Regions from separate parts of the Homo sapiens genome. Here region 2 is linked to region 1. Evidence: fine-mapped expression QTL. Tissue or cell type: pancreas. Region 1 holds a variant in brackets; the other region holds the start of a gene. All regions are shown on one strand. Distances are from middle to middle.

Region 1 (2,682 bases):
TGGGAAGATTACATGAGCCCCAGAGGTTGAGGCTGTGGTGAGCCGTGATCGAACAACTGCACTCCAGCCTGGGTGACAGAGTGAGACCCTGTCTCAAAAACAAAAGAAACCCCCCAAAACAGAAACAACTAAAAAGGAAAATGGAGAGGAAGAAAGAAGACAGGAAAATGAAGCTCATATAATAAACTTTGCTTCTCAACTGCTATCTGAGTCAGAGATTTGACTCATCTATACAGTGAGTTCTTAAACTCTAGGTTCAGAAAATTGAAATTTGCCATTAAAAAACTTTAGAGATGAATTGATTTCCAATCTCAATGTTACTTGTTCTTTGTGGATAAGAGTTAGTATATTAGCTAGGAATTATACATTTCTACAGGACTTTGGACTTTATCTGTGTAAAATACGGATCTAGTTCTATTTCTCTATCTCCTGAGCATTCACTTCATGATAGGGACGATGTCAGATGGCGCACTCCTGTAACAGGCATTGCCAGCACATCTGCAGATAGAACCCCGGGAGGTCTGGAAGTGAATGACATTGCCTGAGTCCACGCAGAGCAGGTGCAAAGTTGGGGAACAGTCCACTAAACCACCATCACTACTGATACCAATTTCAAGTTCAGGCATCCCCAAGATCGCCCTCAGTTTCAATAATTCACTAGAGGAGTCACAGAGCTTACTAAAAGCGATTATATTAACAGCTACGGTTTATTACAGTGAAAGTCAACAGCTTAAAATCAGCCAAGGAAAGAGATGCACGGGGCAGAGAGTCCGGGAGAGTTCCAAAGGCAGAGCTTCCAGCTGTCGTCCCGCTGAGGAGTCATGCACAGTGTTAACTCCTCCTGGCAACAGTGTGTCCAGTATGCAGGGAGTACTGCCAACCACGGAAGCTCTCCAGAGCCTTGACTGGGGCTTTGTCATGTGGCTGACCTCAATCTCCAGCCCCTCTAGAGGTTGAGCTGATACCATGTTACCCAACCCCACCATAAATCACATTGTTGGACTCTCTGGCATGGCCCAGCACCCCCAGGTAAACAAAGAAGTTTTTATTAGACAGCACATTCCAAGGGCTTAGAGATGGCCTCCCAGGATCCAAGAGCAAAGGCCTGACTTCCCTGGGGCCAAGGTTAAATTCTTTACTACACAGCAGAATTTTATGTCTACTAATCCTATACTTGTCCCTTCGCCACAGCTGCCTGTTGGTCGTGCTGCAGGTGGATATCTCCTGCTAAGATAATACAGGGATTTAGAACCCTTTGCAGAAGTGCAGTCCTTTGCATTACGTGGCGCTCAGTGACTTATTTGACTTGCTATTTTTTGCCCAGTATCAATGTATAATTTACTGGTGATGTAACATACCTGTCCCCAAGAAAGAGTGAAGATTAATCCATCATTGGCTGAGGAAGCCACTCAAATGTTCTTTCCC[G/A]AGGTGTTCTGTTTACCAAACCTGGAAAAACAGGTTAATAATAAAACAACAATAATAAATCATTGCTATTAGGCTATACACTGATGTCATAGAAAGGGTTTGATAATGTCCCATGTTTGCCTCCATCTTCTGCAGAGTGGCATGTATCTGATACATGGGCCTTGAACACAGGTGGATCTGCACTGGGCCCAGTACTGAGACCCTCCACTCCGGGAAAGGAGTCTCGATAGCTCCTATTGTGCAGGGTAGCAGGGAAGCAGGCCTGATATTTCATGCTGTAGAGGGATTTTCTGCCGTCTCCAAGGGCACAAGGCAAACATAGGGAGAGTAGCTCTTAATTTGCTCTCAACAAAGGGGCTCTTGACCCACATAATGTAATTTCTCACGGAGAGCCTTTTTGAAGAAGACCTGTCTTTGAGTTAGGTCAACTCATTGTAGATTATGAGGCGTCTATGTAGGGCCTGTCAGACCTAGAGTAGCTGAAAGGAGCCTTTCCAGTGCAGCTCGTTCACTATGCAGAGTCCAAATAAACAGTTGCCTCTGAGTTGTTTGAAACCCTGGGCCTTAAAAGAGAGCTGCTTCTTTGAAGATGTTTTGCATCCAAGGGTGCTATTCTGAACATCATTTCCTGCCAAGATTTTCCCCACTGATTTACTCTCTGCCTCTTTCTCTTTGTACTCATGGAACAACAGAAAGGCATTTAAGAGGGGAACAAAAAAAGGACACCACTTCTGTGCAAAGCCGCGTGCTGATAACTTGATGGCTGGAAAATGCCTGTTTTATCCTGAAAATAGGAAACTGGTTCTAGGTCCAAGGCTTTTGTCTAACTCACTGTTAACGACAGGCTTGTTCTTCCTTTCAGTTAAATATGTGTTTTTCAGCGTTACCTAGTTACATCCGATCTACAGTTCACGCCTCTAGGTAAGTAACAGAATTATATTTGCTTGTGAACTAGTCTGTACAAAGGGGAGGCTGTTCTAACATGGGTGATAGCAACAAAACCGGGCTGTTTTCACCCAGCCATGGGGCAATCCAGGGCCAAGGTCACTGACCTTCATGCTCTCCCATCCCGTCACTGGTGAATGGCGATGACATTCATTTCCAAAAGCCTTGGGACCCACGTGTCATTTCAGGGCTGTTAAAAACCCACAAACTTTGCCTATAGGGAGTCCAACGCGGTGGTGATCTCACTGCAAACAACCTTTTCCCTGGCCTCCAATGTGACGCTATTTGACCTGGCTGATAGGATGCAGAAAT
Region 2 (2,682 bases), 53 kb before region 1:
ACAGAACTCGCAAGAACCCCAAGGAGCTGCAACATTTGTTTCTGTTGCAATACTATTTGTTTCCGTTTGCGAATTATTGCAAACTCTGAATTAGGAGACCAGAATTAATAATATCACATGGTCATTCACAGATCAATCATTTCGTCTTCGGGTCTACCTTCAGAATCTTGAGCAAGTTATTTTCCCATTTGAGCCCCTCTTTCTTCACTTAATGAGGTGGCTTACAGTCCTAAACTTTAGACAGTTTATTATTCATTTACTGGGGAGGGAGAGGTTATGGAAACAAATGGAACTTTATTGACCAAGAAAATTTGTTTACATGAAATCTTTGAATCTTTCCCCATAGGTTTCCATTTAAAATTCTGTGTTCTCTGGGCATCATTTGGTTTAATTTGCGATCTGCAGTTCTTTTCCTGATGATGAGTTTGCCCTAGCCTGCCTGAATTCACAGTTTTCTTTTCCCTGCAGCCTGTTTGGGTGTCCTCGCGGTGACATCTCTGCAGAACTCTGGTGTGAGCCAAAGGCAGTGGTCGGATGGGAACGGCATCCAAGCTTGAGAGGGCGTGGGGGATACTCGGATTCTCGCGTTGGCCGGAGGGTGAGGTGTTAGGTTTGGCAAACACGAGCTCATCACCAGCCCTGGGGCCTGAAGAAGGGGAGGTGGGGGTGGGAGTGGGGACACTTCAAATCAATAACGGCGGTGACAGCGCGGGCTGGGTACCAGGGGACCGTTCCCTTTCTCTCTCCTATCAAAGCACTTGGGATAATCTAGTCTGGTGCTAATCACATTACCCAGGACCTGCTTTTCACCTACTTCTTGTGCGTTTAAGGAGTTGGGTAGGTGGTGCCCGATTCAGAAGACTCTGGAGCATGTGTGTGACAAAAGTTGCAGCACCGTGGCTCCGCTGACCTCATCCCGCTGTCCCGGGCCGGGCCGCTCTCCAGGCGCCCGGCCCCAGCCCCCTTCCTGCCCTCTCCCCGCCTCCGGGCCCGCCGCGCGGGGCCGGTGATGTCAACTGAGGAGGAGCCGCCCGCCAGCCAGCGACCCGCCCGGGCTAATTAGCATGTAGCGGCGCCGCGGGCCGCCTCCGCCCAGCCAGCCCGGCCCCCGGCAGCCCTCCCGCGGCTCCCGATAACTTTTGAGGCGGGGAGCGCGCTCGCAGCCTCACTCCGCTCACTTCCCCGGCCCCGCGCGGCCCCCGCCGCCCGCTGCCCGCTGCCCGCTGCCCTCGCCCCGCGCGCCGGGCATGTGAGCGCGGGCGGGCGCCGTCACCATGGCCTCGCCGCGCGCCTCGCGGTGGCCGCCGCCGCTCCTGCTGCTGTTGCTGCCGCTGCTGCTGCTGCCGCCGGCGGCCCCCGGGACGCGGGACCCGCCGCCTTCCCCGGCTCGCCGCGCGCTGAGCCTGGCGCCCCTCGCGGGAGCGGGGCTGGAGCTGCAGCTGGAGCGCCGCCCGGAGCGCGAGCCGCCGCCCACGCCGCCCCGGGAGCGCCGCGGGCCCGCGACCCCCGGCCCCAGCTACAGGGCCCCTGAGCCAGGCGCCGCGACACAGCGGGGACCCTCCGGCCGGGCCCCCAGAGGCGGGAGCGCGGGTGAGTGAGAGCCGGGAACCTGGCGCCTGGCCAGTCTGTGCTGGGGGCGTGGGCGCGCCCCGGGCTGCATCCCCAGCCGTAGGCCCCTCCGCGCGGCGCGACCCAGGGTGGGGGCTCCTCGCCCGGCGTGTGCGGGACCCTGAGGGTCGGCGGGTAGGGAGGGACGCTTTCGCAGTTGGCTGGACTGAGGGGTGTGACTATCCCGTTCTCCTCCAACCCTTTGGAAGAAAACTTATTTCCTATGGGGTACCCTGTATCTCTTCCACCCCACTTTAAAAAAAATGGAAAGGAAAGGGAAAAAGACTGCAAAGCATCTCTCCCACCTCCGATATCTGGCCAGCCGGTCCCCAGTTTCATTTTTTCCGCTATACAGAACTGGCCTCTCCAGGTACAGGGCTCGACTTTCTCATCTAAATAACTGATTTTTAAGGGGTTCTAGGACGGGATATTGTAAAGGACAAAGGATGTACGTAGTTTGAAACAAAACGCTCTACTGGTTCGACTTAAAAGCAAAGGAACGCGGTTGGGGTTGCATGGTTGAACCCCTGCAAGGCACAGGCTGATACAGGACCATCCCTGAGCCTCCTCCCTCCCCTTTCCTTTCCCAATGAACTGTTGCTCCGTGGTAGCCACCGCCTGTCCCACGCAGAGAGAAGGAACTGACCTCTTCTCCCTGCTACCTTTGTGTCCAGTTCTTTCTTATGATCTGGAAAAATATGCCACATACTGAGTGGAATTCTAACCATAATACCATTATGACCTTGGGACTGCTGTCTCTTTGCGCTCACTTTCTCCATCTGTGAAATGAAAGTGATGATCCCTGTTCCTTCTAGCCTCCTAGTGATGATGTGACAAAATGAAAGTAAAAATAAATGGAAAGTGCTTTGAACAAAGTCAGCAACGTGGTGGTGTTAGCCTTTGCCTTCCTGTGAGTGACACAGGGCATATGCTCTGTCCGGGCTATTCAAATAAGCTGGGTTGCTTGCAACACTGGACATTGATTTGGAGTTTCCCTGAAAGTTGAGTTTTTTGTCTGCATAATTGACAATTCATTTAAGTTTCTCATCTCATGCAGACTTTCTGGCACGTGAA

Evidence for each region. PIP is the estimated chance that this variant, and not a neighbour inherited with it, causes the effect.
Region 2: HEG1 starts here. The variant in region 1 is fine-mapped to the expression of HEG1 in pancreas (GTEx, PIP 0.94).

What each region holds. Positions count from the first base shown.
Region 1 is chr3:125,001,921-125,004,602 of GRCh38, reverse strand. HEG1 (heart development protein with EGF like domains 1) reads left to right here. Exons shown (of 17, transcript NM_020733.2): 10 at 2,288-2,346; 11 at 2,591-2,682. Among named protein-coding and RNA genes, the nearest start is that of HEG1, 53 kb to the left of the region's middle. RefSeq lists an enhancer at 2,073-2,682. The variant G/A (reference allele first, on the strand shown) is at 1,426.
Region 2 is chr3:125,054,483-125,057,164 of GRCh38, reverse strand. It overlaps HEG1 (heart development protein with EGF like domains 1), which reads left to right and starts at 1,168. Exons shown (of 17, transcript NM_020733.2): 1 at 1,168-1,590. The coding sequence starts at 1,275. RefSeq lists an enhancer at 605-654 and silencers at 905-1,284, 1,365-1,454, 1,515-1,674.